4 separate regions of the Homo sapiens genome follow, and all the other regions are linked to region 1. Evidence: fine-mapped expression QTL. A gene starts in region 1. Each other region holds a variant in brackets. All regions are shown on one strand. Distances are from middle to middle.

Region 1 (8,144 bases):
TTTGCTGAACTGTACATGGGTATAGAGAAGAATAGTTTACAAGCCCTTTCTCATATGTTATCTTATGTGAGCCTCATGACAGTCAGTGACAGAGGCAAGACAGGTACTGTTGATGCACAAATCACACAGGAGGGTATTAACACGCTCTTAGAAACAAAGGAACTTATGGAAGATTCATAGAAAGTACTAAATCCTCCTTTTACTGTCCAACAAAACTCACCCTTCAAAATGTTCCTGAAATCCCACCACCTTCTCAAAGTTGATGAATGGGAGAGCCACATTATCTTAGTTTAGCTCCTATTAGTTTAGCTTCTAAGTTCCAGGGAAGTGTAGTTTCAGGGAAGCAGGAATGAGAGAAAAGGAGAGTGAGATGAGAAAGAGGAGAGGAAATATAAGGGGGTGAATTACTGAGTGGGTCACAATCTTGAAATAAAATGATGAGTTTATATCAGGGGGTGAGTTACTGAGTGGGTCACAATCTTGAAATAAAATGATGGGTTTGTAGCAGGGGGTATTTTCAGAGAGGCTGTTTGAAGCCATTGTGTGTGTCCGAGGGGTGGGGAGGAAAGGAATAAAAATGTACTTACTGTCTTCATTGCCCATGATCAAAGTCAGATCCCAGGGCATTAACTCACCAACAGTATTATACATGCTTGGGGACATAGAAGGAGCTGCTGGAGAGCACAGAAGCCATGGAGTAGGAAGCAAGGTACTATCAGGTCATACAGGAAGGAGTGACATGAGAAACCAGGGGTAGTCACAGAAGAAGTCTGGCTGGCCCAGAAGGCCAGGCTCTGACATGTCATGACATGTCATGACATGACTTTCGGACACAAAGTTGGTGAGAGGTCTTAACAAACCTCTGTCTATGGCCTACGAGAATGCAGCTGGTGCCAAGGCATGTTCCAGTGTTACTGAGAAGCTCACCACATGGTCTAGAGTGGTGATGGCGACTTCTACTCCCAAATGAAGACTCACTTCAATGACACCTCACCTCCCTCACCCCAGAATTGACCAATTCCTTCTTTATGCCCACACTATTCTACACACGAGTCTAACATGGATATATAAATATTTAACACAATTATTCAGATTTTTTTTCTTCTCCTTGAGAAGACTTTTTGGGGTTGGAGTAATGTTGATTCATTTATTCAGTAGTTTATTGAGTATCTACAATGTGCCGGGCAGTTTTTTTTTTTAAGTGCTAGGAATAGAACAGTTGATAAAATAAATACAAATCTTTTAACTTTCTGAAGCTTACATTTTAGTGCATGTCTGTGTGGATGATTGATGAAGATATAGGTACAATATATCTTGTGTTGACGGTGGTAAGTGTCTTGGAGAAAAACAAAGCAAGATAGGAAGAGTGGTGGTGGGGATTGAGGGATGTAGATTAACTAGGGTGGCCAGGGAAGGCTTCAGGGAGAAAATGACATCAGTACAGAGCAAACATGGATGTTCGTGTAAAAAGAGTTCCAGGGACAGAGAAGAGCAAGCACAAAGGCTCTAAGACATAGCTGGTGTGTCCCAGTAAGGGCAGGGTGGCCAGTGTGGACTCAGGCAGAGTGAAGGAGAGAGAAGAGTAAATAAGTCAGAGTTAATACGGAACCAAATATCACAGGTCATTGGAATAATTTGGCTTTCACTTGGGAGGGATGAGGAAGAAGCAGGGTTTTCACCCCAGGGGTGATCTGACAAATTTGCATAGGATCACACTGGCTGAGAATAGACTGTAGAGGGGCAAAGGGTGAAACTGGGAGTTGGGAGGTTACTGGAGTAATGTGAATTAGAAGTATTGGTTGTTTGGACCAAGATGGTAGCAGGGGAGGTGGTGAGAGATGGTGAGATTATGGTTTTAAAATGGTGCTGATGGGATTTGGGATGGATTGGAAAGGAGGTATGAGAGAAAGAGAGAAGGGGAAAAAATGACTCCACATTTTTGGCTTGAGCCAAGACTACAGGAGGAAGAGATTTCAAGGGGAAGATTAATAGTTTGGTCATGAGATAGCTTTTAGACATCTGAGTGGTGGTGTTAAATTGCCAGTGGATTTAAGAGTCAGAAGGTCAGGAAAAAGTTCATGGCTAGAGATATAAATATGGGAGCTATTAGCATGACATTGGAGGGCATACAGATGTCATTAAAAGCCACGAGACTGGATAAAATCACCAAATGAATACATTCAGATAGAAAAGTGAAGAGGAAAAAAGACTGACTCCTAGGCCACTATAACTTCTAGGGGTTAGAAAAGTGAGGAGTAACCAGGAAGGAGACTGAGAAGAAATGGCCATGAAGGAGGAAGAAACCCAGAAGAGTGAGGTTTCTGGAAGCCAAGTCAAGAATGTTTTAAGACACACGACCTGACAACTGGGCCAAATGCTACTGACAGAGGTGTTGTGAACTGCTATGAACTGAATGTGTGTGTCCCCCAAAATTCATATGCTGAAATCCTAGTTCCCAATGTGATAGTATTCAGAGACAGAGTCTTTGGGAGGTAATTAGCTAATGAGGGTAGAACCTTCATGAATGGGATTAGTGCCCTTATAAGAAGATAGGGCACTAATCTGTGTTTCCTCTTTCTGTGCTCTCTGCCATGTGAGGATACACAAGAAAACAGCTGTTTTCAAACCAGGAAGAGGATCCTTGCCAGACACTGGATCTGCCTGCATGTTGATCTTGGACTTCCCTGCCTCCAGAACCGTGAGGAATAAATTCTGCTGTTTAAGCCACCTAGTCTAAGCAGCCTGGACTAAGATAAGAACTGACCTTTGTGTTTAGCAGCATGAAGATCACAGGTGACCTTGGGCAGTTTCAATGCAGCAGAGGAGACAAATGTCCAAATGGAAGTTCAAAAGAAAATGAGGGGAGAGAAATTGGAAGCACCAGTATAGGCCATTCTTCAGTTTCACTTTCAAGAGATAGAGTGGAAAGAGGGGAGGGAAGAGTAAAAGAAACTCCCTCTCTCTGTGTGTGTGTGTGTGTGTGTGTGTGCGGTTATATGCCCACTGGAAAGGTTTAGTATAGCCTACTGGCAGCACCAGGCAGAAAATGAATGTGAGAAAAATGAACAAAAATGCCCCAGAACCATGTATACATGGGCCATGGAATGAATTCACACATGGCTCCTGTATCAATGGGGAAATGCATTGCGGGAGGGAAGGTGCCTGGGTTAGGCCTCACAGGCCTAATGCCTTAAAGGTTTTAGATTCAAAAGGCAGAAATAATGAGCCTGCCGAGTAGCACAGTGGAGGTTCTCATGATGTGCCAGGTCAAAATGTGGTCTAGCAGCCTTTTCAGAGAGGTTAGTTGAGAGGGGTGGTTTTACAGAACGCTGCAGTTGCTATCATCATCATCATCATCATCATCATCGTCATCAAGTAGCAATTAATAATCAAATAGCAATTAAGTGCCTAATTTTTTGTACCACCTCATAAATCAATATAGGGGGGCTTGTTCCCTGGGGGAGCTACTTTGATGAGAAGCAGCAGTATAAAAGACCGGAAAGTCAAAGATTGGGGAAAGGCAGGCGTGGGGCAGAGGCAGAAGGCTCTTGCCAAACCATCCTGCCTCAGTTCCTGATTTTTCACCCTGCCTCTCCAAGCGCGGGAGTGGAGGATCCTTTCCCTCCCACTTCCTCCTTTGCTCTTTACCCCTCCCCCTCCCCCCCCCTTTTTTTTTTTTTGCTGTCCTCCTGGAGCAGGGCTGGTTCTGAAGCTTGGCGGCAGCCCCTACCTGCTGACCCACCGCCTCCGGGCGCACGGGAAGAGGACTGAGAGCCCTGAAACCCCAGCGGGGCAGGAGCCAGCATTCTGAGCATGTGCGAGCCAGCCAGGGGGCTAGGGCGGATTTGGGGGGTCGACTTTAGGTCGTCGCCCTAAGCGCAAAGCGAAAGAGCGGTGAGAGCAGGGGCGGGCGACACTCCCCGGAGCGGTGCCCCTGCGCCCAGGGCGCAGCGACTGCGCCCTGCCCTGCGGGTGTGGGCGAGTTGGCCGCGTGTGTGCCTCGCTGTTTGACGCGAAGACGAGCCAATCAGGGCGGGCGGCCCGAGCTGCCATGTGACGGGCAAGGCGGCCCCTTTCCCCAGCGCGGCCAGAGGGAGGAGAGAACCGGGGCTCGCCGCGAGCCTTCGAGAGCAGCGGCCGCGGAGGAGGCGGCGGCGGCGGGCGGGAGCAGCGGCGGCGGCGGCACAGGCTCGGGGCCAGCCGGGCGCGCATCCCCGGGCGCCCTGCGCGGTGGAGAGCTTGGCGGGCTGCGGGTGCCGCAGGACAGGAGTGGACAAAGCAAGATGGCAGGGATCTTAGCCTGGTTCTGGAACGAGAGGTTTTGGCTCCCGCACAATGTCACCTGGGCGGACCTGAAGAACACGGAGGAGGCCACCTTCCCGCAGGCTGAGGACCTCTATCTCGCTTTTCCCCTGGCCTTCTGTATCTTCATGGTGCGGCTCATCTTCGAGAGGTAAGAAGGGCTGAAGCCCCTCCTCCCCTCCCCCTGCGCACACACACGCGCGCACACACTCGCGCGCTCTCTGGCGCACGCCCCCGCGCCCCCAACGCTCGCGTTCACGCCTCCCAACCTTTGTGTTCGGGGAGGGGTTGCTGACCCCCCTGCCCCGCTGGCTTTCTGGGAGCCAGAAAGGGTCTGGCTTGCCACGGATTTCCTCCCGGGCGCCGGGGAGGAGCCGCGGAGCGTTAGGGTCGCCCCCTGCCCTCCTCCTGGGCCCTGCTCTCCTCCCGGCAAGGGCAGGCGAACAAAGGTGAGCGGTGGTCGGGCTCAGGACCCGCCGCATTCCGCGGGGCTCGCCCCTCTCCGCCGGCGCGCCACGCAAGGCTGCCAGGCAGGGCTTCCCGCCGGGGCCCGCGCCACCCACCTGACAGCCAGGAACGTTCCGGACGCGCGGCCCGGAGGGAGGAGGAACCGCGCACACTTCAATCTTTATGCTCCGGCACACGGATTGTAGGGGTTGTGCTTCAAAAGAATTCGCCAGGGACTTCCTGGCTTCTGGTCGCTGTTTGGTTTTTATCCGTGAAACTATCAGGCCCACAGTCCTGGCAAATAGGGGATAATAGCATTTCAGGTTATTAGCGGTTTCTTTAAAAGAGGATGTGACAGGACGGGTCCACATCCTGCAAAATGGTGATATTAAACTGATAACCCTGTCCTGTGAATAATCATAAACTTCTTTTTTGGTACTCGAAGGCACTTAAAATTTTGAGGAATTGTCATGCAATTGTATAGTTCCTCGGTTTGGTTGGATATCTCCATTGTGTCACATACAAACTTGTGTTATTCTCATGGAATTCGTTTTCGTCGCGAAACTAGATTGTGCCTGCCATGCATTCTCTGGGTGCTACTGAAAGAAAACCAGGACAGCAGCACACTTTTTTTTTCGTAACAGAAAATATTATCTTCCCCTTTCTTGTACCCTCCCCTTCCTCTGCCCAATTCATCAGTAAAGGCTGAATTTCTTAGATCACAAAGTAGAGTTTAGATTGCATTTCTCGCTTCCACTCCGCCTTTCTTCCCCGCCTTCAACTCACCTTGGTTTTGTTTCTTAAGCTTTTGCTGGTACCTCATTTGCTGTTCCTCTTTGCCTGAAAACGACTGTTGAGGGTGGCAGAACGCGTCTTTTGAGTCATTTGCTGCTGGACGAGGCAACAAAGCTTCATGGGGACAAAAAGTATCTTTTGTCTCAGGAAGGTATATTTTTCACCGGACAGTATTGTTGCTTGAAAACGAAGTCAGCTGTTCGCCTGCAGAAATTGACATGCACAAAGCAACAGACTTTAAGACCTATGTTTAAATTATTGGAATCTAATACAGATGTGTCATTGATCCTATACAAAAAAGGATCAAAAAAGTCACAGCAGTGCTGTGAAAAAATGGGTGTGTTTGCAGGTGTAGAGTTACCTCTAGAGCAAATGTTTGGTTACAGAAAATATGAACTCTATACAGTTTTGCAGGCTCTCCAAAAACAAGCAGACTCAGGGATAGCAGGTTTGCTCTATGTTGGCACATAGTAGGGGATCTACACACAATTGCTGAATTATGATAAATTGTGTCTGATAAATTCTGGCTGGGCTCACTTTTAGATAGATAATGCATTTGAAAGAGATGTGCAGTCTTATGTGTTGGAGAACAAAAGCATGATCTGTGCACAAACAGCCGAATTTTCCTGACATCCTCCTTCTCTATGCTGATTCCAGGCTGTTCACTGTGTTTAAAAAAATTAAGTTGTTAGAATGGAGATGGCTTTGTACTTAGATTGTCTCTGCCTCTAAAAAGATAAACACTAATGTGATAGTTGAAAACTGGAAGTTCATTTTTCCTCTTTCTAAACATTTTTTATTTTCTTTCTTTTTTTCCATAATCCCATGACTCGACTTAGAGTTTACATAGAGGGGTGAGCTGCTTTCAATTGTCAGTCACAGCAAATGTCCTCATATTGATATAAAGTGAGTTGGTCAGTTTCCTTCAGGCCATTGATCTAAGTAGAAGAGATTTAATGGCCTGTATGGAAAGTGAAAGTTTATGGTTAATGTTCAGAATAATAATCCAATATGGCACATATGTCACAGAATGCTACTGACTTTTGGAAGACTATCTACTTTGTTTCTTCCTATGATAGCTCTGTCTTTAACCATTCAGACCTTCTCAATTCTCTGAAAATCCACAATTTAGTTGTATCTAGAGTTAGAAGTTCTGCATGTTTCTCCTCTTCTCAAACCTAAATGACATATTCTGGGATCCAACCTGTGACCTTCATCTCAGTAGCATCCATCAAGGGCCTGAATCAATAAAACAGAACCATTCAGTATTATCACTGCTACAACTCACATTCAATGGCCTTCTAGCATTTTGTATATACATCCTTTTCTTTTGCAGTATTCTATAATGTATACGATGATTTTAAAAGCCTGTTGTGAATCCCTTTGTAGAATGAAATGCTTTTGTAATAGGAATAATTCTCTCAAGATTCTTCTCTTTGTATGCTTTGTCATTTATTTCAAAGCTGAGACCATACCTAAGAAATACCCGATTATCCAAGTCTTTATTTTACATTAAGTGAAGTCAGTAATGTCCTTGTTGAGGCTAAAATCGTGAATTTGAATGCCTTCTTCTCAGTCTTAGGTATTTCTCTCTACTAAGAGAAACATCAAAGAATTGACTGAAATGGGCTTTGCCCAGTTAAACAGTCCTTTCTTTTTATTTTCATCCCGGCTGTTGTGGTGTGGATAGTGGAGGCATTGGTAGCCAGAACATGTCACTTTATGACAGCATATGGACAGCAATATGGAAGCCCAGCATGGTTGGTAAAAAATGGGGCAGCCTAAGGTCAATGACTTTTGGCTGAGTCTGTGAAGATCTCAAAGCTTGGTGGTTTTTAGCATAGCCTTTATACCATACTTAACTCCGGGTAAGGACCAGGACCACTGTAGCGACCAATTGATTGACAGAGTAAAGTATGTGGGTTTTTTTTTTTCCCCCAACTGGGCTGATTCTCTTAGAATAAAAATTGTATACCATTATATTATGTTAACTTGATCACAAAGAACAAAATGTTATTTATTAATAATATAGCATTGTCATCTGTTTGATGAATTTTCTTGATTTAATGCTTGTTTAGATTCAGTAAGCCATTCTCAGGAACTATAATAAATGCTTCTTCCAACTTCACTTTTTCAAAAATGTGTTTTGCTGTGGTATTTATAAATGTGGAAATTGTGCTGAATCTCTTTAGAAATAAAAATTCTTTGAGTTATTGTTACAAATGTTAACTTTAATGCTGTGGATTTAGGAGAGATGCAGGAAGTATAGATCGGGAATCAGAACACTCAAATTCTAGTCAAAACTTACACTGGGGCAGCCTCCTAATTTATCTCTGTTTATTTTCTCATTTATGTGTTGAGGCAAATGGCCTTTGTAACTTATTGTTTTCACCCTCCTGATTCTTTGATTCCTGTGGATCATCTGTGCTTGAAAATTACTAATTATTATCTGATGAAACTTTGAAGCGGCTGAATGTCTTTTTTTTTTCTTTTCTTTTTTTTTGAGACATGTTCTCCCTCCATCACCCATGCTGGAGTGCAGTGGCATGATCATGGCTCACTGCAACCTCCACCTCCTGGGCTCAAGCAGTCCTCTCACC
Region 2 (8,000 bases), 93 kb after region 1:
ACAACTTGAATACACATGGCTTGTTTCAGTGTAGCTGAGGCTGGTGAGCCGCTGGGCCCAGGAAAGTCATGGTTTGTAAATGCTATGATATGAAACCTTACCCATGGCTCCTGTCAAACATTTTAGGCAAAGAGACTCTATGATATGATTTTTAAATACATACATGTATTTGTAGAAACACATACATGTATTTGTAGAAACACACACATGTATTTGTAGAAACACATACATGTATTTGTAGAAACACATACATGTACATATATAATTATAATAATTTTTTCACATATGAGGAGATTAAGGCAGAGAGAGATTAATTCCTGTAGCTAAATCTCCATAGCCAGATAGCAGCAGAAATAATTCCCACCCTATCCTTTGGACATTGCTGTAAAAATATGTTAACAAAGCATCATATTTATTTGATAATTTTGATTATTGAAATTTGATAAGTTGTCAATTAAGTGGTATGCTGTTGCATTCATTCTTGGAATTTAAAGAAAATAGAGTTTTAAAAGTGGTTTGAAGCTTAAAAAGAGAAGGAGAGATGTATACATTATGTTGTATAACAAATACTAAAAATTTTTTTTGATTTTTTTTTTTTTGGCTGATAACAGAGGTGAGGAAGTTGAAGAGACAGTGTTGAGTAAATTTCTTGACTCCCCTACTGCCTGCCCATGCATTGTGACAGGGCACACAGAGAATGTCTGCTAACTTGTCCTCAGCACTCAACACCGTGATAGCAACAACAAAACATATTTACTGAAGACAACCAGTTGATTAAATGTCTTGACCCCCTCCTGTGTATGCACAGGCATTGTCACAGGGCATACAAAGAGGAAATGATCAGCTTCTGCATTGAGACTCAGTGCTATTTAGATGAAGAAAGAAGACTGTACTGGAACAGCAGGCTGTTACAAGGATGATGATGACAAAGTCGGAAGGGAATGTGAACACAATGTGTCAGAGGTGTGGGAAGGGGAGGATGAGGGAGGGCGGGGAGGAGTCCAACTGGAAAGACTAGAAAGAAACCATTGGAACAGTTGTGTCCTTCACACCAAATGCATTTTGTGGTCTTACTGTTTGCTTTTGCTGGACCGTATGTCTTTTCACCCCGCTCTGTTGTACCTTATGATGAGGGGCAAATAACCACAAAGCAGGAAACCTTGTCAAGGAAACAAGTTCTAGACTCTGTCTTGTGGTCATTGCCCACTAAATTCCTTCTTTCATCACTATAGCCATAGCCCCATGATTATCATTTATAGAGAAGGGCCAGAGTCGTTAGGAAAAGGTTATACTTACTGTCAAGAAGGTAGGGATGTAGGTAATGCAGCTCAGAAAATTTTACATTAAACAGAATTGAGAATGTAGAAGTTTGGGGAAAACTCCAGTTTCTAGAGGATTTATATATCGGGAAGGGGTGATTCTTCTTTCTTCCCAACTTTGTCCCAGAGAGCCCAGTGTACCAGGTATTACGGTGCATTTTCTCTGTCTTATCTTTCCTGGTTTAGGCTTGCACGTGTACAATGTTCCATTTTCCTGTTTAAATAAATTTCTTCACTTTTACTTGAAATAGGACCCAGTAGGATATTATGTGGTACTTTACATGTAAGTTTCATTGGTCCTACTTTAAAAACAAAAACCTTTGTCTACTGTTCTTTAATCTCATCAACTGTTATTAAGGAAGCTTCATCTAAGATTTAATTATGGTCTGTTTTGCATATTTATCAATTGTTGCCTTTGACCAACAGTGAATTAATTTGGGTAATACTTTCACATGATATGAAATTATCCTGTATTAGTAGAAAATATTAAATGTTACTACTGAAAATGAATATTTACAGAGTTTTATTTCTTGAGCATTTAGTCTAAAACAACTTTTAATTTTTTTTGTTTTACACAGTTTTATTAGCAATGTCCCCACACCTTTGGGGCCCCATGCACTTCACCTGCTCCCCTTCAGCACCTCATTCACACAGCAAATGCGACCAGAAAGAAGGCTCAGTCCTCCCATTCCTCTTGACGTAGGCATTGGCTTAGGATAAAAACAGTTTTGTGGATGTTCATAAACACTTGCGACTTTTCATCTTGTCTGGGACATCATGCCCTTCGACATCCTTCATTACTCTTTATGAGAAACAAGCAAATAACCACAAAGCAGAGAATTTTAAGAAGCCATGAGGGATTGGGGCTGAATTTAGCACACTTTGATTATAGAGACAAAAATTGCCAAGTTTATGACTACGGGTGGTCAAAGCGCTCTCTCTGCATGGATAATTAGATGCTTAGTAAACGTTTTCTCACAGTAAAAATATGACTATTGCTCTGTGTAAGAAGAGTATAAGTTATATTATTTTGAAATCATTGTTTTATTTCTATCTTATACACTTATATTTTCATCTCATAGTCTTTCTAGCTTTGTCTCATTAGAACTTGAGGATTGGAGGGTTTAAATGTTTTAAAAGGATTTCTTTTTTAATGTTACTGCTGGGGGCTAACAGAGAGAAAAACGGTTAAGTCTGCCTTACAGTTACTGACAGGAGTGTTGACAATGTACACCCATGAAATCCTACCAACACTTTATTGGGATAATTGAGTAATGTGTAACTGGTGGCATTAAGAATCACATAGAAAGAATAAATTCTGACCTTCTACTTTTTTCTTTTTGTAATTTTTAGATTTGTAGCCAAACCGTGCGCCATAGCCCTCAACATTCAGGCCAATGGACCACAAATTGCTCCGCCCAATGCCATTCTGGAAAAGGTCTTCACTGCAATTACAAAGGTATGATTGTCCTTTCCTGGGGTATAGATTGTCCCCGGTCACCATTCTCAGCCTGCTGTCATTCAATTTGTCCCCTTCTGGGTTTGGAGAATCAACTTTTGCCTAGCCTTATGCTGGAGAACGTGTTGTCAGAAGGAATGCAAGCGTAGTAGAAGCGGAATGAAGATGGGCTTGTCTTAGACTTGGTAGTTTACGCTCAAGTTGATTTTTAGTAGCTCACCTGAGAATAGTCTTGACTAAATAATGATTAGTCTAATTCTGTGCCTCTTTTAATCACATGTGAAGCAAGATGTGACTAGAAGCAAGATGAGGGCTGGGAGGGACTTTGTGGAGGTGACTGGGTGGAGCTGAAGAATGTGATTTATGTGTGTGCGAAAAAAGGGACCTCTTGGCTTGTAGCATTGTCCATAGATTCTAGGAGCTGTGATAAGTAGACAAATGTAAACAAAAACAACAAGAAGGCATAACTGCAGGATAAAAGATTGTACCATGAAGTTATGAAGAAGGAGGGTCAGGAGAGTCTTAAGTGAAGAGATAGGTTCACTGTGGAGAATAAAAGGGAGGAGATACTCAATCTGGTGGGAGCTGAAGCCCAAACTAGGAGTGGGAGGAAGGGAGTGGGAGAGAAGTGGGTAGAAGAGACCACGTCTCCTGCCTCTGCCCCCATCCCAAGTTCAGATCTCCTTCAGAACAAAGAGGGAGGAGAAAGCTGGAAGTCAGAAACCCTCAGTTGAAGGCCATAGGAAAATAGAGCAAATTACCGAGTTTTTATATATCTTACCTTATTCTTGTTTGGACAAGAAAGAAGAAAAGATCAGGAGAAATACAACATTCTATGAGAAGTATTGTGTGTTCATATATTAAATGGCTCATTTTCTCCCTTTCATTTTTCTGGGAGAATTACCCAGGCTTCCAAGATGTGATTTGACAGAATTAAGCAAATTCTATTTCTTTTCTTGGTATTTGTGTTTCTAGCCATTTGTACTAGCTATCTCGTCTTACAACTATTAATTCAGATATCCAAACACTTTTATCTATTTTATGGTCTTCATTTCTTCCAAAATTCTCTAGAGTTTTTCCCTCTGTCCTTTTAAAAATGTTTTTCCCTCAAAAAATTAAGAAAGTACCAGGTGTTTTTCATATCTCTGCTAGGAAGAAGAGAAGAATGAATGGAATTTTAGGAAAAGCTCTTTTGATGGTTTTTATGGGGTAATTTCAGATTGCCAGGTTCCTGTCTGAAGGGACACATATCTTACAGTATTTAAAAGAAAAAAATGTAAAGAAAAAGCTTGCATTTTCATTTAGTGTATCAAATTACTTAAGTGAAACAACTTTTTCCCTCTTAAAAAAGCAGGTGTGTAGGGACTTCTCAGGTTCATTTGTAAGTGTGATTATAACATATTTGGAGTCTCTTTGTGAACTACTCTAAGTACATTAAACATACAGTATTCTAAATGAATAATAAAATGAGGTGTTTTTTTTTTAATTTTGTTTTTTGTTTTCTCCACATTTGATGCCTCTCCTTAAAAATCCTGCAGTGGATGTTTCACTTCCCTTGCCTTATGTTTTTTACAGTTACTGGAGAAATTTCCTCCATAAAGGTAATAAAAAGATTTTGCAGCCAGGTTGACTTTTCTAAAGAATACTTGCTTTGGCTGGGCGTGGTGGCTCACGCCTGTAATGCCAGCACTTTGGGAGGCTGAGGCGGGCAGATCATGAGGTCAAGAGATCGAGACCACCTTGGCCAACATGGTGAGACCCCATCTCTACTAAAAATACAAAAATTAGCCAGGCGTGGTGGCGGGTGCCTGTAGTCCCAGCTACTCGGGAGGCTGAGGCAGGAGAATGGCTTGAACCCAGGAGGCGGAGGTTGCAGTGAGCAGAGATCACGCCACTGCACTCCAGCCTGGCAATGGAGCAAGACTCTGTCTCAAAACAAACAAACAAACAAAAACAA[A/G]TACTTGCTTCTAGCTAATTTGAATGATCATATTCTTTTAGTTTCCAAGGTGATTCCTTTGGAGGTTTTTACATGATTAAAACAGAAGCGTCATGTAAAATATAAATGCAGCAAAAGTTGGAACTGTTTTCCCTTGTATTCTTTGTAGTTCTCCGGTCTTAATTGTGATATGAAATGTAACCAATCAGTTGACTGGAATAGGAGGGGCAGGACTTGGGAGAGCTTGAACAAAGTGTGCGTTTGTGTGTGTGTGTGAATGATCATCCAGTATCCTGGCCTTACCACGGTTTGAGCTGCCTTTTTGTAGAAGGGCATGATTATAATCCTTCAAGTGTGAGAGAGGTACCCTTAAAATCTCTGTATATGACTGGCTACATAGTTTGTGGGGCCCAGTACAGAATGAAAATGTGGGACCCCTTGTTCAAAAAGCACAAAAAAAGTGCCATTAAGCATACAAAAACATAAAGCTTTTTCCTTCCTCCCTCAGTCTCTCTCTACTTGTCAAGGTGTTTTTTTGTTTGTTGTTTTTGGTTTTGAGACAAGGTCTCACTCTGTTGCCAAGGCTGGAGTCTAGTGGCATAACTGTAGCACACTGCAGCCTCAAACTCCTGGGCTCAAATGATCCTCTTGCTTCAGCCTCTCAAGTAGCTGGAACTACAGGTGTGGGCCACCACACCTGGCTAATGTAAAAAATTTTTTTGGAGAGATAGGGCCTCACTATGTTGCCCAGGCTGGTCTTGAACTCCGGGCTTCAAGCAATCCTCCTGCCTCAGCCTCCCAAAGTGTTGGGATTATAGCTGTGAGCCACCATGCCTGGTCAAGGTGTTTTTTATTTGTCGTGTAATGTCATGTTCCCTAATGGCATGGGGAGACTCTTGGAGAAAGTGCAGACCCTCACAGGTAGCTGGGGGCCCCACCCTGTGACTTAGTGTGCACATGACCCACCAGCTGCCAGGTTTCCCTTTTCTCCAGCCACTGGCTGACACACTGTACCTTGGTCAGGGGAGCAGAGAAATACAGTCAGGCCTCTCTCCAGGCCCACTGCCCCAACCCATGGGTGATGAAGGACCTTCAAGTGCATTGCAACCTCTATGCCCAGATTCAGGGCTACACAAAAGGCTCAGCCCTACCGAGTCGCCCACCACATGCACTGGGGTAGCTGCCTCCATCCTCTCTGAAACTCGATCCCCCACTCTCTGTGTTTGCACTCGGCCCTCCACTGGGGGCTGAAGGCAGCAGCAGTCACTAGGAAGTGGGGAGACAGGGAGGCTGGTGAGTGCTACAAGCCAGGGGATGAGGAACTGGGCAACCACACACACATTTGGCGGAAGTGGTGGGACTGTGTATGAGCCAAGAATCCAAGCTCCTGGCACATGCTCCTTTGCCCCATTGGACTTCATTATAATAAGCACAAATTCCATGATAAAACTGTTAAGAATTTCAAGATGGTGACTGCAGGGTTTCCAACCCCAAATGTGGACCCTTCTGAATGGGGGTCCCTGTGTGACAGCACAGGTCACATGCCCTATCTGGTTCTCCTTTGTGAAATTATTAATAGCTGAAAAATTTGAACCCTTATATATTCTGTAGCAGTCTTTCCTTTTGAAGTAACACCTGTCTTCCTGTTGCCTGTCTCTCTCTCCTCCCCCATCCCCTGTCTAAAATTTTATAAACACTTTATAGAAACTACTCCTATTGTAAATGTCAATTAGAAGTCTTGGTGTTTGAGCCAGTTACACCTGGATATTTGTGTTGGAACCTCAGCTCTGCTGCGTCCCGTCATTGTGGCCTTGGGTGAGTTTCTTAACGTCCCTAGGCTGCAGATAGCTCATATGTAAAAATCTTTGAATAACCGTCTCACAGGCGTTCATGAGGGTTAAATAATCATGAAGCTCATTTGTAAAAATCTTTGAATAACCATCTCACAGGCGTTCATGAGGGTTAAATAATCATGTAAATCATTCAGTAAATGATATAGCATCTTTTGTCTCATTGGTTCCCATATTTTGATTTGCATTTAAGATTACCTGAGAGTTAAAATGTAGAGTGTTACGTCATGTTTCTATAGATTCTCCTCAACTGTATTGGAATGGGACCAAAAATTCTACAATTACGGATTGTCAGACCCATTCAAATGAACAGAATGATTATTTCTCTTTAGTGAATATTTTTGAGCTCGTGTTTCTTAACTGGTTATGTTGTTTCTTAACTGGTTATATTCAGAATTATCTGGGTAAATATGCTTTTAACTTTTGGGGATTCTCCTACCATATTATTTGTACATACCTATGATACTAACTACCTCACTTTTCTAATCAAATCAGTGCTTAAGCCATGGGGGTGAGAATATATGTCAGGTATAAAGCCAGGTTTTATGATCCAGGGAAATAATAAAATTAACTTTTGGTATGTTAGAGTAAATTTTAAAGTGATAGGCAGATTTCCTACAATTTGTTTTTCCTAATTCTCCTCAATAATCTATTTCCTTTCATTTTTATTTTATACTTTCCTTCTTTGCCTCCCAGTACTGGTTAAGATTAATGTTATTAATATTAACCTAGGTGTTTGTAATATATAAATGTTTATGTGAGTCTCCATTATTCATTTCTTTGCCTGGAAATCTTTCAAAAAAACTTACGGAGAATAATAAGGAAAGAACAATAAGAAACCCCCACCCTACATACAGAGTATACACACACACACACACACACACACACACACACACACACACACTACACACACAAACACAGAGAAAGAAAAAATGAAAGAAAATCTCACAAATGTCTTATTTGGCAAATTAGGAGATGCATATCTCTAGATTTCAAAACATATAAAGGCTACCTAGATTGGGCAGAAACCAAGTATGAGGAAGTGAAAAGCATGAAGTGTGTCTGGAGGGCCGTGTGGGGGTGGGTGTCAGGAAAGCCAGCACAAAAGCACTTCTCAAGAGTTGAGGAGACAAAAGAACCACCCACTGTTTGCAACAATAGGTGCAGGAACAGGTGAGCCAGGCTGGCAAGAGTGGAGGAGGGACACATAAAGCCACGTGGAGGGTATGTTTTCAGGAGTCCATCTCCCTTCATGGCAGCCAGACTGGAAGAGCATCCTTCCTGCTCCCCACACTGGAAGTAGCAGGTCAAGAAAATTCAACTAATTCAAAGATGATTAATAAAGAAGCAACTCACACAATATCAAAGACAATAAAAAGAAAGTATAGCAACTCCTGTTAACAAAATTTTCACTAGAATAATGAGGCTAAAGAGGC
Region 3 (8,144 bases), 37 kb before region 1:
TCCCATGCGAGTCCAAAACCCAATAGGGCAGTCATTAAACCTTAAAGTTCCAAAATGATCTCACCTCCTTTGACTCCATGTCTCACATCCAGGTCACACTGATGCAAGAGGTGAGCTCCAGTGGCCTTGGGCATCTCTGCCCCTGTGGCTTTGCCACAGACCCCTTCCCAGCTGCTTTCAGGGGCTGGTGTTGAGTGTATGCAGCTTTTCCAGGCATATGGTGCAAGCTGTTTGTGGATCTACCATTTTGGGGTCTGGAGGATGGTGGCTGTCTTCTCACAGCTCCACTAGGCAGTGCTCCAGTGGGGACTCTGTGTGGGGGCTCTGACTCTACATTTCCCTTCCACACTGCCCTAGCAGAGGTTCTCCATGAGAGCTCCACTCCTGCAGCACACCTCTGCCTGGACATGCAGGCATTTCCATACATTTTTCTGAAATCAAGGCAGAGATTCCCAAACCTCAATTCTTGAATTCTGTATACTTGCAGGCTCAACACCATGTGGAAGCTACCAAGACCTGGGGCTTACATCCTCTGAACCCATGGCATGAGCTGTACCTTGGACCTTTTTAGCCAGAGCTGGAGTGGCTGGGATTCAGGGCACCAAGTCCCAAGGCTGCACACAGCAGGGGGACTGTGGACCTGGCCCAAGGAACCATTTTTCCCTCCTAAACCTCTGGGCCTGTGATGAGAGGGGCTGCCACAAAGATCTTTGACATGTGCTGGAGATGTTTTCCCCATTGTCTTGGCGATTAGCATTTGGCTCCTCACTACTCATGCAAATTTCTGCCACAGGCTTGAATTTCTCCTCAGAAAATAGGTTTTTCTTTTCTACTGCATCATCAGCCTGCAAATTTTTCAAACTTTTATGCTCTGCTTCCTCTTGAATGCTTTGCTGCTTAGAAATTTCTTCTGCCAGATACCCTAAATCATCTCTCTCAAGTTCAAAGTTTCACAGATCTCTAGGGCAGGGGCAAAATGCCGCCAGTCTCTTTCTATAGCAAGAGAGACCTTTATTCCAATTCCCAACAAGTTCCTTATCTCCAACTGAGACCACCTTAGCCTGGACTTTATTGTTTGTATCACTATCAGTACTTTGGTCAAAGCCATTCAACAAGCTTCTAGGAAGTTCCAAGCTTTTCCACATCTTCCTGTCTTCTGAGTCCTCCAAGTACCTAAGAAGTTATAAACTTTCCCACATTTTCGTATCTTCTTCTGAGCCCTCCAAATTGTTCCAACCTCTGCCTGTAACCCAGTTCCAAAGTCACTTCCACATTTTCAGTTATCTTTACACCAGTACCCAACTGTACTGGTACCAATTTACCGTATTAGTCTATTCTCACACTGCTAATAAATACATACCAGAGTCTAGGTAATTTATAAAGGAAACAGGTTTAACGGACTCACCGTTTCATGTGGCTGGGGAGGCCTCATAATCGTGGCAGAAGGTAAAGATGGAGCAAAGGTATGTCTTATGTGGCTGCAGGCAAAAGAGCATGTTCCCTGTATAAAACCATCAGATCTTGTGAGACTTATTCACTATCACAAGAACAGCTGGGGAAAAACCTGTCCCCATGATTTAATTACCTCCCAGCAGGACCCCCCCATGACATGTGGGGATTATGGGAGCTGCAATTTAAGATAGGATTTGGGTGGACATAGCCAAACCATATCACACACTTACTCATGAAAAGAATTTTTTTTAGCAGATTAGGAAAATAAGAAAATCCCTTAACCTAATAAGAGAAGAATATTTTTTAAAAATCCTTCAGCAAATAGATTTAATGATAAAACTTTTAAAGTATTTCCATTAGAGTGAGGAGACCATAACTTTTCAATACTGTCCTAGGAGTCCTAGTCAATGTAGAAAATAAGCAGTAAAAATATTAGAGAATGTATCAGTTAGACTAAGCATTATTCAATTTATTGTGGTTTGGAAATTTAAAAGTTAACCACATTGTTCATTTCTGAAAGAGACAAAGTTGTCATTATGTGCAAATGATATGATAATCTTATCAAGAGTCAGGACAAGAAGTGGAAAAACTATTTTAATGAATAAGATAACTCAGCAAAATTTTCTCAGTGAGGCCAGATGTGGTGACTCATGCCTATAATCCTAGCACTTTGGGAAGCCAAAGTGGGAGAATCACTTGAGCCCAGGACTTCAAGACCAACCTGGGCAACACAGTAAGACCCCATCTCTAAAAAACAAAAACAAACCAAAAAAAAGTTTTTAATTAGCCAGTCATGTTGGTGAGTACCGGAGGTCCCAGCTACTTGGGAGGCTGAAGTGAGAGGATCCTTTAAGCCCAGGAGGTTGAGGCTGCTGTGAGCCATAATTTTGCCACTGTACTCCAGCCTGGGTGAGAGAGCGAGACCCTGTCTCAAAACTTAAAACATAAAAAATAAATTAAAAAAAAATCGATAGTATTTTTATACCAATTTCTTTACACCAAATCATTCCAAAGAGCAGCACAAAGTATAAAATGCCAAGAAATTAATTTTTCAAAAGTTGGATTTTTATAGGAAAATTATAAACTTTTTTAGAGGACATATTAAGACAACTTGAATAAATAAAACTGAAAGGACATATTATTATTTAAAATATCTTCTCAATTTAATCAATAAATTCAATATACTCCAATAAAAATTACAAAATAATTTTTCAGAAATTTTGACAAGCTAATTCCAGAATTCATAAAGAAGAGTCAAAGTACATGAATAGTCAAGGCAATTTTTGAATAAGAAATGTAACAGTTACGTATTTCTTAAATAAAACAAAAACCATCAATTAAAAGGAAAAATATATGATAAGTTGGACTATGCTAAAATTAAAATGTCCACATAGTTAAATACACTATGAAAAAAGTTGAAAGAAAAGCAAACGACTGGGAAAAGTATTTTTAGCACAATAATTAGCAAAGGATTAATATTCACGTCATGTATATAGAAGTCCTACAGATTAATTTTAAAAGGACAATAGAAACTGGAGCAGAAACTGGTATGACGCTTTGGAATATGACATGGTAGCATCTAGTAAACGTAAAAATATACATATCCTGTAATCCATTAATTCTATGTCTCAGTACACTCTCTAGAAAAACACAGATATTACAAAAAGGAGAAACATCAAGGATATTCATGGAAGCACTGTTAACAGTAAATAAGTGGAAAAACCTTAATGACCATCAATGAGGGAATGAAGGGATGAAATGTATTATATCCATGCAATTTAATATTCAGTGGTAGTTTAAAAGGTCTTTAACTTTATAAATATTAATATGAATAGACACCAAAAGCAATGCTGAAAAAGAAAGGCAAGATAGAGATTGATACATTCAAGATGATGCTGTTTATGTATATTAACCATATATAAAAGAAAATATGACCGGGCGCGGTGGCTCACGCCTGTAATCCCAGCACTTTGAGGCCGAGGCAGTTGGATCACTTGAGGTCAGGAGTTTGAGACCAGCCTGGCCAACATGGCAAAACCCTGTCTCTACTAAAAATACAAAAATTAGCCAGGCATGGTGGCAGGCACCTGTAATCCCAGCTACTTGAGGGGCTGAAGCAGGAGAATTGCCTGAACCTGGGAGGCAGATGTTGCAGTGAGCGGAGATCGTGCCACTGCACTCCAGCCTGGCTACAGAGCAAGAATCCATCT[C/CA]AAAAAAAAAAGAAAAGAAAAGAAAAAAAGAAAGAAAAAAAAAGAAAATATTACATGTATTTTTATCTTATGCATAGCATTAAAATGCAGACATAGTATATATGTGTACATAAGTATCGGTACACATATCTATATTTAGATATATGTAAAACTACATGGAGATTAATGTAATTCTCTTGCAGAATAGACTGGAAGAAAACAGACAACACTTCAAACACACAAGTAGAGAAGGGTGTGGAAAGTGGGGAGGGAATAATCCTGGAGATAGGGTTTAAAGAACACTGATCTATATATGTAGTGTGTTATTTCTTAAATAAATAAAAGATTAAGAGCCAATGAGACAACATATTTATTGATTGATTGATTGATTTATAGAGACAGGGTCTCGCTTTATTACCCAGGCTGGAGTACAGTGGTGCAGTCATAGCTCACTGCAGTCTTACACTCCTGCATTCAAGCAATCCTCCCAACTCAGCCTCCCAAAGTGCTGGGATTATAGGCGTGAGGTACCATGCCAGGTCCCAGGACAAAATATTTAAAATGTGTAATTCAAAATAGCCAAATAAGACATCTGCTTTATTACTCTTTGTAACTTTTTCCCTTTGAATCTCTCACAGGTAAGCAAAGTTTTAAAAAGGTACTTATAAATTGCTTTCATACAATGTACATATGCAGATCAAATGCCCAAAGTGTCTTTAGAATTTTCTTTTCTAAAAGGTCTCTGATTAGAATAATCAGATCACTTTTCTGAACAGGACTGGTTAGGTATGGAAAGAAAAACAGAAGAGAGGGTCTGAAAGCCAAGTTCATTGTGGGGAATTCTTTGAGTTCTTTTAGAAAGACTTGATTCTGGTTGTGGTGGGGGTGGAAGGGTGGGTAGGAGAGAGGATAGAGAAAAATTACCCCGAGAGACTCCTTCCTGCAACTCCTCAGACTCTTCCAGCTAACAGAGCATGGGCATGATGCATTAGTGAGCTGAGAGTAAATAGCAAATGAAGCAGAGGTGCCAGTTCCCTTGAGGCTTAGGTAAGACGTCAGTGGTAAGAAAATACTACATTCTTTTTGTGTAAGAGGCCAAAAAGGTGAAAATCTCTGGTAAGGCATAATAACAGTAGAAGAGGGAAAGACTAAAGTTCATCTCTCCTGAAATTTATCTTCTGTTATGCCAGTCCATGCTAACTTCAAATTCTGAGTAGCAATAGTGCTCATCATATATTGTCATATTATTATAGAGCCACTCAGAAAACAAGAGAAATTTGGGCCGCCTCTTTTTTTTTTTTCCTGAGGCTCTAGCATATTAAAAATGATGAAATAGCAAAATAGACCTACAATGATTATATATTGTTTACAATTAACAGTAGGCTTTTGATACAAATTATAATAAAGTAAGTATGCTAGTCATCAGCTACAAATCATGAAAGATATGAAATCATAGTAGACATATGAAAGACAAAAATGTAAATTTCTATGATGAATATGTTTGTCTTTTAATCCTGTCATTATCTTTGTGGTTGTATGTAATGCCGCAATAAAAGATCAGGCTAAAAATCTATGAGTTCTTTGTGAATAAGAAGTCAGGGCCAAACAGTCTTCCTTTGCCATCTCTCCTGCCCTCCTTGTTTTAAGTTCTGCTCATGGGGGTTTCCAACCAGACTATAGCCCAGTTTAAAGGAATGACTGTGTCTTATGAGTTGTGGGGCAAGAGGTTGAGGGGAACAAGAGTGTGACTTTGGTTGGATTTGTAGTGGAATGGCACATACCACAAGTCAACAGGATGGAAGAGGCAAGTTCAGAGAGGATGACGTAAAGCAGGGAAGGGTAGGAAGATGCCATGAGTTCGGGCAGGTGAGATGCTCAGAGCAGACCCTTGTCCCTGGTCTATCCACCCTGGACTGAGCCTGGCAGCCCACAGAACTGAGATAGGAATTGGCAGTCGTAGTCTCCAAGACAACAGGCCACATGACCCCACTGATAAGACAGGAGACAGTAAACAACAGGTCACAAGCCCCTGCTGCTAAGAGGATAACAATAAAGAAACCAGGCCGGGGGCAGTGGCTCATACCTGTAATCCCAGCACTTAGGGAGGCTGAGGCAGGCAGATCACGAGGTCAGGAGTTCAAGACCAGCCTGACCAACATGGTGAAACCTCATCTCTATTAAAAATACAAAAATTAGCTGGGCATGGTGGTGCACACCTGTAGTCCCAGCTATTTGGGAGGTTGAGGCGGAAGAATCGCTTGAACCTGGGAGGTAGAGGTTGCAGTGAGTCAAGATCTCACCACTGCACTCTAGCCTGGGCAACAGAGCAAGACTCTGTCTCAACAATAAATAAATAAATAAATAAATAAATAAATAAATAAATAAACCATCTAGAACCAAGGTGGAGTGAAAGTGACCTTCACTATTCATTATCCATGAATTATAATTCACTAGCATGCTAAAAAACGCTCCCATCAGTGCCATGACAGTGTACAGTTGCCATGGCAACACTCAGAAGTTACCCTGAATGGTCTAAACTGGGGAGAAAACCCCAGTTCTGGGAGTTCCCTGCCCCTTTTACAAAAAACTCATGCATAATCAATCCCTTATTCAGCATATAATCAAGAAATAATCACAAATATAACAAGTGAGCAGCCCACAATGCTATTCTGCCTATGGGGTAACCCTACTTTGCTTATGGAGCAGTCTTCCCTTTGTTCCTTTATTTCATTCAACTTCCTCTTGCTTTTTTTCTGTCAGATCGCTTTTGACTTCTTTCTTGTGTGAAGCCAAGCACACAAAGTCCCCCAGACTGAACCCTACTTTTGGATGTGCAGAAGGGATGGGTTGGCTGAACTTTTCAACTCCCTTCTCTATTCAATTCATGATCTCATCGCCATGTTTCATTCTCATATTTCACTTCTTTAAGGGCTTTTCTACTAAGTCTTAAAAATCATTATGTTAACATATACTTTGAGAAATTGTTGGAATAATCGCCATTTGGTGGGAATATGTTCAGAGAGAGTGGTGGCTTCCCCCATGACCCTTCCATACCTGGAAACACACACCCTGCCATCAAACTGAGCTTCTGACTTAATGTCTGGGGAAGGCAGCTGACAGGGATCTGGTACTTAAATTGATAGAGGAGGACCTAGAATGTGGAAGAGTGAAGGAATTAGGAGTTCTGGACAAGTAGAGACAAAATCCCAAGGCATAGAATTCTGTGAACAATGGAATGAGGGTCTAGGCATGGGCACCAGCAGGACAGGGTGCAGCTTGACACTTAGCAGGGTTTCCCTGCATCCCTACAGCTCAGTCCAGAGGTGGTCCAGATGTGATGCAGGTGGAGCAATCATATAATTCCCATAATGTACATGTCTTATGAACTCATCCAAATCAGAAAATACTCTGCCTGCCTGACTGTAGTTCTCTATAAATGAAAAAAAGTGTTATTAAAAGGATTATAAAACTCTAAAAAGTCAGAGCCTACAGTCTCTGTGCATAAGTAAAACCATTAGATAATCTGGGTGAGAGATCTTTATGGCCATTTGTCATTTGATGATATTTTCTTCACCTGTAAACCCACAACGATACACTGTTACTAAGAGAGGATGAAACAGAAAGGCCTGGAACATTCCATTCCCAAGAGATAATTTATCTAAGTTTTAACAAAGAGAAAGAAAATCAAAGCATAAAATGTTCTCCAGTTTTGGTCTTTTGCACAGTCAAGAGAGGCATTACATACTTACTACTTTGTTATTAAAAATAGAGACTACTCTCCTCCCAATGTCCCAAATGAGAAGAGGAAAGTTGGAACTGGATGCCATCAATAGGTTGAGAGACCAGTCACATCAAGGAAGAGAAGAGGGACCAATTTATGTTGGCAACATTTAACTTTGATGAGCCTCTTTTTGTCAGCCTCTTCTAACTTGGGGAGGCGGGAGAGGGGAGGAAAATGGCAGAGAGAGAAGCGAAGTGGGGGAAGGCCGTCTAGAAATCTAGAAGAGAAAAAGTTTACCTGTAAAAAGAAAGCCAATGTGGATTATAATTTAACATAATCTTAAAAAGAAAATAAAGAGACTTCAACAAAAGTCAAAGCAAACCATTTTAATCAATTTGAACCCCAGTAGGAAGAGGGTAGTTTCCCTTGGCCTTTGGCTAAAAAGTCTACTTAAAAAGCTGGTAGTCCATGGGCGCCTGTAATCCCAGCTACTCAGGAGGCTGAGGCAGGAGAATCATTTGAGCCTGGGAGACAGAGGTTGCAGTGAGCTGAGATTATGCCATTGCACTCCAGCCTGGGTGACAAGGTGAGATTCTGTTTCAAAAAAAAAAAAAAAAAAAAAAGCTGGTAGTCCAAAAGGAAGGCTATGTTAGCAGGGAACATTGCTGCACAATCAGAGGAGTTAGTTTTTAGTCAGAGTTTACCAGAAAATCCCCAGGAAGTCTGAAGTTTCTTCCTCTGTGTCATTTTGAGTTGCTGTCATCTGTCCCTAACCCCATTCA
Region 4 (8,144 bases), 320 kb after region 1:
TCCTTAAACGTAATCCAGATGACTTTCCTGTTACTAAACACTGAGCAGCATTACACTACAATGCTTCTTTGGTTTCCAGGAATTTTTTTCAAATGGGGCTGTTTCTGGAAAAATGAAAAATTCTATTGGACAATGGCAATATCAACAATGAGGAAAATTACTGAAGAATAAGTTTCCATAAGTCTCCTACATAGCAGTGTTATTTATGTACAGATAAGAAAACCATATGTCAGCCAAAGATTTTATCTCTTCTTCTAACTTTTAGTAAGAGGAAAAAGGGATTATAAAACCCTTCATAAATCAAGAAGGCCATCACTTAGAACGAACCCCAAACAAAAATGCCATAATATAAATGTGTGAATCAGGGCTGTGAAGACAACAGCAGAAATGCTAACAAGCGTGCAGAAACACCAGAGAGTGCGTATCCTGCTCAGAACCATTCACATTTAATTCAATTCTTGGAAAAAATTAAAGCTTTTTGCCCACAATTTGCAATCTGTGGGTTAATAGTTAAAAGAATGTTCCCAACCAAAAAATTCTTACCGTAATATTATATCTTGCCCTACTTATTTACAAAATAATATGTTTCTGTTATGGTCCTTAGTAATAATTGAAGAGGCTTAGAAATACATCTGCTTGTTTATTGAGAAAACGATGCAAATAATTCTGCTTTTAGAGCCTTGTTATTTTATTTCACAAAACAGGCATATGTCTAGGAGTGTAATTTGTGGATGGTTGAGTTTGTAAGAACAATCATAAAAGGACTTGTTAGTCTCCAGAACATCTGCTAAAATGCAAGTATATGTATAAGGTAATAGCATATTACAGCTGAAAATTTTGAGAAGGTAAAAGTTTCTTAATTAAAATATGAACATATTTAGCTTGCTTTAGTGTCTGGGGCAAGTCCTCTCAATGGCTAAAATTAACTTTAGAGATCCATGTGTTCAGGTTTAGATCATATGACACTCGAGCACAGAAGAATAATTTCAAGGAGGTCATCTTGTAAATTAAAGGTTTAGAAGAATTGCATAAAACGTAGTAAATGGGGTCTGTCATTAGCAAAGGCAAATCTAAGCAATCATTTTTCCCCCCAGAAGTTACTTAGAAGGAGAACTGGGAACACTTGGGGTCTCTCTAACTGATGGCATTCACTTCACACAGTCGTCTATGTTATCCAGAGATTTTTATTTCATTTTACATTTTAGGGCACAGTTCTTTGGGGCTAATTAAAATGGGGTTTGCAGGCTTTTTATGGTGAAGAATAATATATCTCTGTCTATAGCTTTCCCATGGTAGCCTGATAAGGCTGAGAGAGAAAAATATGTGCAGTATCTCATCCTCCCCCTGTACCAGGCCATAGCTTTGAAGTGTATTTTGTAAATTCAACTATAGGTTAGTCAGAATGCTGTTTTTCGTTAATTAACTTAGCCTGTGTTGATATCTCCTCCTTCCTGGTCACATTCAAACCTTCCCAGAGTACAAAGGGGTATGTAGAAAGGATTCCAGAAGAAGTAATACTTTATTCTCTAATGTTAATAGCTTTTCTGGATCTCTTAGTAGGGGGAAAGTAGAAAATCGAGTAGAATTTGGCCTCAGGTCAATAAATGATATAAAAACATGTGTTCTATTTATGTATATATATGTATGTTTCTCCAAAAAGTGATAAAACCAAAATATCACTGACTCATCCCTACCCATATTCTTTTCATAAAACCCACTCACCAGGTACAATAGAAACTTCCCTCCTTGTTTGTCAGCCTCCTGTTCATGTTCCCCACACACCTGAAGGTGGTAGAATCTTTTCAGCCTCTTAGCCAGTGAGCTAAATATGGCTAAGCACAGGTCATAAGAGCACCTAAGGCCAGCATATAAGCCAACTACAGTTCACCTTTCCAAATTTGGTCCTATGGATGTTGAGCATAGGGAAGCAACTCTCAGTATTTTGGATTATTCAAGTGTATGTGGTAAAAATGCAGATGATTGCTGCTTTACCCCAGGGTTTATTAGCATCCTACTTCTGCTGGGCTGCATCATTATATAATGCCACAGGCATCTAGTCAAGGTAAAGAAGCCAGAAAGGTTAGGCAAGAAGTGAGATAAAATCAGATCACCTTTGATCAAAATGGTTGGTGAACCTCCACATGTCCAGTTCTGTTGCCAAACTTTCCATTCAGAGTATTTGGTGGAGTTTGAATTTGAGCAAACTAAATGCCTTCATCTTAGGTAGAAAGGGCCTGAATCTTCCATTTTATATTCAAACCTCATTGTTATTTGGCCTAAGTAAAAAGTCAGATTTCATTTCCATTTACCTGAGTTCGCTTTAAAGAGCTTTTCAAAGAGAGCTTTATAGACACCCACAATTGTCCCCAATCTCTTCATGATGTTGCATTAATAGTTGTTTTTGTCCCTTTCTTGGAAATGTTAATGCCAAAGTTGCCTGAACATTGGGCGGTTTTCTTAATTTGAAGTATAAAAATTATAAAGAGTAATTCCAAAGGTATTAAAAGATTGTTTAACAGTATGTGTGGTGATGTCATTATCTCCAGAGAGGCTTCAAGAAATCCTTTGGAAATAAAAAGTTAAATGTTTACATTTCATGTGGTATTTCAGGTCTTCAGGTTCTGATTAGCTTACTTTTTTCCTTTGTCTTTGGCTGATTTCTGCTTTGTAGATAAATAATAATAGCCCTGAGATGTTTCTAACATTTAAATAAGAAAAAAATCAAATCGAAGTCAGCCTGCTGGAAAAGTGATCACATGGCAGTTGCAGTAACTTGTATGGAAAGAGAAAATGCAATGAGCCCAGTTACTGCACTTGCCACTACCATGCTGTCCATGGAAGGAATAATCAGCAGTTCAGTTGTCACAAGCCGCCCTTGAAGAAAACGCAGCAAAATATTTTAAAATGAAGATATTGCAGTCCCCAGAGCCAGTGAAGGTTTCTTTTGGTAAAATGAAATTGTGCCATTGTCAAAGTACCCCGTAGTGATGAGCACTGACTGGTTCACTGGCCACATTTTAGTTCTTCATAATAATAGGCCACAAAAGGGCTCTGTGGTTTGCCTCCATGTGCACTGGCCCCTCCCCACCCCTAGGGGGCACTCAGTAGCTGCTGAGAAGGCCTGTCCACGAGGCTGTTGGAACCCCTCCAATAAATACTTAGAGGTAGTGTATCTGATGCTTGTTTTCGTGGAGAAAATTGTATTGGAGAACTTAAAACATCACGAATATTTTTAATAGGATCCGCAGACACCCAAAGGAGAAGCTTGGTCTTTTCCAGGTATTTCCAACTTGAGTTCAACCCAAAGCCTTTGAAAGGAATGCATTACCACATGACCACATGCTGAGACCCCATGGGGTCTAACACGGGACCTAAGAAAGTCTCTGCAGCCAGATAGTACATGGTGTCTCCACAAAACTAGGCATTCTGGAGATTGCCCAGAAAGGGATGTGAGGGGACCGTTAAGATCTGTCTTGCTTATCTCATGCACTCACATTCCTTCAGCCTCCTGGAGTTCCTGATAAAAGGAAGCCAGGGTGTGGACATTTTTTAGCTATTGATTTCCCAATAGCTTGTGGATCAGTTGTACACCCACACTTCCTTCTCTGCCTAATTCCGTTTTTCTGGAAAAAGTAGTATGCCCATGTATGTGTGTTTTTCTTAACACAGGTCCATGAAAGTTTGGCTTCCTGGTTTGATGTCTGTTGCGTGGCCTGGAAACCAGGGAGCAGCAACTATTGAGATGGTTTCTGTGTTCAGTGAAAAATTCTATTTCATTGAGACAATTTTTTCTTTATCCACAGTAATTTTTTGACACTGTCATCATGAAACTACCCTTAGGAAAATAAGATTACCTGCAAAAAAAAAAAAGAAATGAGTTATGGAATAGGAACAGTTATGTGATGATTCTGAAACTTTAACTTAGAGCTTCATTACTTTAAGAATGGAAAACAACCTCTGAGTTTGATTTCCCAAAGTTTCATAAAGCCCCTAAGCTCATGATTTTCATCAACTCTTTGCCCACATAGTCATTTACCTCCACAGCCGTTTGTTGTCATAGAAGGGGTGGTGGTGTTTGGATTTGATTTTTTTCAACTTGCAGTGAGAAATAGGATAGGTGACAAAACCTTACTTGTTTTCTTAAGACAATTCAGTGCTTGAGCATCTCTGTCAGAAATGGAATGAAATACTGTTAGCCAATTAGAATTATTTTATGTATTGTTATTGTGTTTTGCTGATTTTTATATGAAAATATAATTATTCATTCTTGATCTCTGGAAGCAATCATTATTATGAGGATCATTTTACTTTGGAAACACTTTCATA[A/G]TAAAGATAAGTATTAAGAGTGCAGTGTAAGTGCCCTTTACTGTAAATGCTAACCAGCTCGTGTGGGTAAAACATCACATCTCACCTGATGAGGTTAATAAAGGCTCACATCATCCCAGTAGATTGTTACAAGCCTCGTCAACTCCCAGTATCATTGTGATCATTGAGAAAGTAATGTTACGTTAACTTGGATAGACTGTAGTATCTCTTTGAAAATTAAGATTAAAACCTCAATGCTAAATTTTATGTAGCACTTTATTCTGGAAAACATGGTTTATAGAGATCATCTGAAATATATCAGGTTATGCTTATTTTTAAAAAAATTTTAAAAGAGGCACCTAGGATAAACACCCAAAGCACAACACAAAACTTCCCTTCTCTGTGTATGCACCCCTCATCGGAGTTTGGCCCACATCATCTTCTCTTGGTTTGTACCTCACTTTGCTAGAACTTCTCTCCATCTTTCTCTGTCTTTCCTGTGAAATACCTCTCTCAATCTGCTCTTCTGCTCTAAGCTTAGGTCTTCTAGTACTCAAAAGCCGTAAAAATAGCACTGAAATTCAACCAGACACCCCACCACTATCACAAGTATTATAAAAAATAAAGCAGATACCCTATTAAAATCTTATAAACATTATAACCACCCCCAACAATAGAATAACTCATGCTGATTTCAAGCATGAGTTATTCTAATAAGTTAAACCACCAACATTCCTCTGAGACACAAAAATACAGACTATGAAAAAATATACTTTTTTGGAATCCATGAATTCTTCAGTTCTACAAAACATAGCATAATCTAATGCTATAAGCATCTGTCTTAGTCTGCTTTCTGCTGCTGTAACAGAATACCACACACTGGGTAATTTATAAAGAATGGAAGTTTATTGGGCTCATGGTTCTGGAGGCTGGGAAGTCCAAGAGCATGGTGCTGGAAACTGGTGAAGGTCATCACATGGCAGAAGGTGCCACATGGGAGAGCAAGCATGCTAGACAGAGGAAACTGAGCCAAACTCATCCTTTCATCACTCCTGAAATAAAAGCATTAATTCATGCATAAGGACAAGGTCCTACCTTAAAACTTGAGTTTTGGAGAGGACATTCGAACTATAGCAGTATCTCTCCCAAGTAGCCAAAATGCAACTCCCTTTTCTCTAGGCCCCATTGCTTACTACTGGGGCTGCCATATCCAACCTAAGCATCTGTTATTCCTGCCTCCTAATTCTGTTTCCACCAGCCGTGCTCTTGCTTCAGTGGGAACAGTGGCAACAATGCTAACAACATTGAGAGATGATAGGACAACAAAGGGGGAGAGCTGTGTACCAAGAACTACTGGGATGCTGGGTGGTCCCTCAGAACCAATTAGCACAGTAACTGGATCCTGGGACCCACACCCTTAATTATTCTCAAAGTGCTGGAGCACAAAGAAACAAAAGTTATATTATTCCTAAACATTAAAATTTTAAATTTTTTAATTAAAAAAAAAATTAAGGACAGGGTTTCTCTCAGTTGCCCAGGCTGGAGTGCAGTGTTGCGATCATAGCTTGCTACAGCCACAAACTCCTGGGCGCAAGCAATCCCCCCAAGCTCAGCCTCCCAAGTCGCTGGGACTAGAGGCACACACCACCAAACCCAGTTAATTTTTTAAATTTTTCATAGTGGTGAAGTCTTGCTGTGTTGCCCAGGCTGATCTCAAACTCCTGACCTCAAGCAATCCTCTCACCTTGGCCTTGATGTGCTGGGATTACAGGCATGAGCTACTGCACCCAGCCTGAAATTTAAAAATTATATAAAGTCTGCCTTAGCCAAGGTCCAGGTGGGAAACAGTCACTGTCAGATGGTTAAGTTGAAGAAACTTTAATAAAAGGATGACTTTACAGAGGCATGGGCTGGATTACATCAAACAAGGGAGAGTGAGGCACCCAGAGGCTAACAAGTATGGGAAGCCTTTACCACCCCTGGGTTGTAACCAGAGGCCAGTGAGAGGGGCTAGTATGGAAGAGAGGCCACTCTTTGGGGGCTACAAACCTGGATGGAAAGAAAATACCCCAATGTCTCTCTCTTCCTGCCTTGTTATACCACGCATTGGCTGGACTCAGCAGAAAGCTGACAGTGCGGAGCCTGGGGGACGTAGGCTACAGGGTTCAGCCTCCCATGGTGCACAGCAACAATAGATGCGGGAGAGCAAACCAAATAAGCAGCATAAAGCCAGTATTCCTAGAGCCTCCCATAGAGTCTGGCATGTAATAGGACACAAGAAATGTTTGTCGAAGAAACAAATGAACCCAGTTACGAGAGAACTAGTAAGATGGGAGCTGTTAGCAATTAACATTCCATCTATTAGGAAACAAGCAGGAGACAGTACTTTGTCTCCAACTCTTTCTGAACTCAGGATTTCCCTGTGTGGGTTCCGCTTCTCTCACTGGTGCCTCAGGCACAGAAGCTGAGGGGCTTTATGGCAGGCTTGGATAAGGGGATTTGACACCAGCATCCCAAGTCCAGGCATCACGGGAGGGAGATGCAGGACTGAGACTAGAGAAGTGGCTAGAAACAAGCTAAGAGGAACTGAAGAGAGAGGACATGAAGAACTAGAGAATGAATGAAACAGTTGTGAAACAAGGCAAGAAGGTCTATGCTCCAGCATTCATGACTAAGTTTTGAAGCACATCTTCAGGTAAGAAGTTTATTTTTTTTTAACTTACTGAATAATATAAAATATCTGCAGAGCCAAAAATAAACAGCAAAGGCTCAGTTCCCTGGCTGCGTAATTCAATCACTCAAAAATACTTATAGAGAGCCCACTAGGTGCCAGGAATTATTGTAGACACTAAGGACAGAATGATAAATAAGACAGATAAGTTCCTACTTCTATGGAACTTACAATAAAGGGAAGCAAAAAACAAATAAACAAGGAGCTGCACATCATATATCATCAGGGAAATGCAAATTAAAACATCAATGGGATACTACTACAAATGTCACAGAGTGGCCAAATTCCAGAACACTAACAACACCAAATGTTAACAAGCATGTAGGGGAACTCTGTTGATTGCTGGTGGAAATGCAAATGGTTCACACACTTTAGAAGACAGTTTGGCAGTTTCTTGTAAAATTAAACATACTCTTCCCGTATGATCCAGCAATCATACTCCTTGGAGTTTACCTGAAGGAGTTGAAAATTTATGTCTGCACAAAAACCCATACATGGATGAAATTTATACATACATAGCAGCTTTATTCATAGTTGCCAAAACGTGGAAGCAACCAAGTTGTCCTTCGGTAGGTGAATGGATAAGCAAACTGTGGTACATCCAGATAATGGGATATTATTCAGTACCAAAAAGAAATGAGCTATCAAGCCACAGAAAATATATGGGGAAACTTAAATACATGTTACCTAGTGAAACAGCCAATCTGAAAAGGTTATGTACTATATGATTCCAACTATATGACATTCTGGAAAAGACAAAACTGTGGAGACAGTGAAAAGATCAGTGGTGGCCAAGGGTTGCAGGCGAGAGAGGGATGAATAAACAGAATAGATTTTTAGGGCCAGGAAACTACTATATATGATACTTTAATAGTGGATACATGTCATTATACATTTGTCCAAACCCATAAAATGTACACCACCAAGAGTGAACCCTCATGTAAACTGTGGACTCTGGATGATAATTATGTGTCAATGGAGGATCATCAGTTATAACAAATGTACCGCTAGTGGGTGATGTTGATAATGGGGGAGGCTATGCAAGTGTGGGGGCACGAGGGTTATGGGAAATTTCTGTACCTTCCTCTCAATTTTGCAGTGAACCTAA

Direction of the effects. Positions count from the first base shown, and alleles are read on the strand shown. Sizes are in standard deviations (SD) of each study's normalised expression. Not every link is listed here.
With allele G in place of A in region 2, the expression in activated naive CD4 T cells of the gene that starts at base 4,107 in region 1 is higher (large effect, 0.78 SD a copy in Schmiedel 2018).

What was found.
Region 2: its variant is fine-mapped to the expression of CERS6 in activated naive CD4 T cells (Schmiedel 2018, PIP 0.95).
Region 3: its variant is fine-mapped to the expression of CERS6 in whole blood (INTERVAL, PIP above 0.99).
Region 4: its variant is fine-mapped to the expression of CERS6 in lung (TOPMed, PIP above 0.99). The same link has a PIP of 0.9 or more in whole blood.

Annotation. Positions count from the first base shown.
Region 1 is chr2:168,452,166-168,460,309 of GRCh38, forward strand. It overlaps CERS6 (ceramide synthase 6), which reads left to right and starts at 4,107. Exons shown (of 10, transcript NM_203463.3): 1 at 4,107-4,453. The coding sequence starts at 4,284. LOC102724081 (a long non-coding RNA gene) reads right to left here. Exons shown (of 4, transcript XR_002959433.2): 1 at 4,866-8,144. RefSeq lists silencers at 3,699-3,918, 3,949-4,038, 4,159-4,288, 4,739-4,798.
Region 2 is chr2:168,544,924-168,552,923 of GRCh38, forward strand. CERS6 (ceramide synthase 6) reads left to right here. Exons shown (of 10, transcript NM_203463.3): 2 at 2,673-2,778. Among named protein-coding and RNA genes, the nearest start is that of MIR4774, 34 kb to the right of the region's middle. RefSeq lists enhancers at 5,251-5,822, 5,823-6,393. The variant A/G (reference allele first, on the strand shown) is at 4,736.
Region 3 is chr2:168,414,698-168,422,841 of GRCh38, forward strand. It overlaps LOC105373734 (a long non-coding RNA gene), which reads right to left and starts at 7,058. Exons shown (of 6, transcript XR_923559.3): 1 at 6,696-7,058; 2 at 1,406-1,501. LOC102724081 (a long non-coding RNA gene) reads right to left here. Exons shown (of 4, transcript XR_002959433.2): 4 at 7,734-7,956. The variant C/CA (reference allele first, on the strand shown) is at 3,663.
Region 4 is chr2:168,770,785-168,778,928 of GRCh38, forward strand. It overlaps CERS6 (ceramide synthase 6), which reads left to right. Exons shown (of 10, transcript NM_203463.3): 10 at 1-4,350. It overlaps CERS6-AS1 (CERS6 antisense RNA 1), which reads right to left. Exons shown (of 3, transcript NR_045787.1): 2 at 4,037-4,167; 3 at 1,167-3,854. Among named protein-coding and RNA genes, the nearest start is that of CERS6-AS1, 12 kb to the right of the region's middle. The variant A/G (reference allele first, on the strand shown) is at 4,327.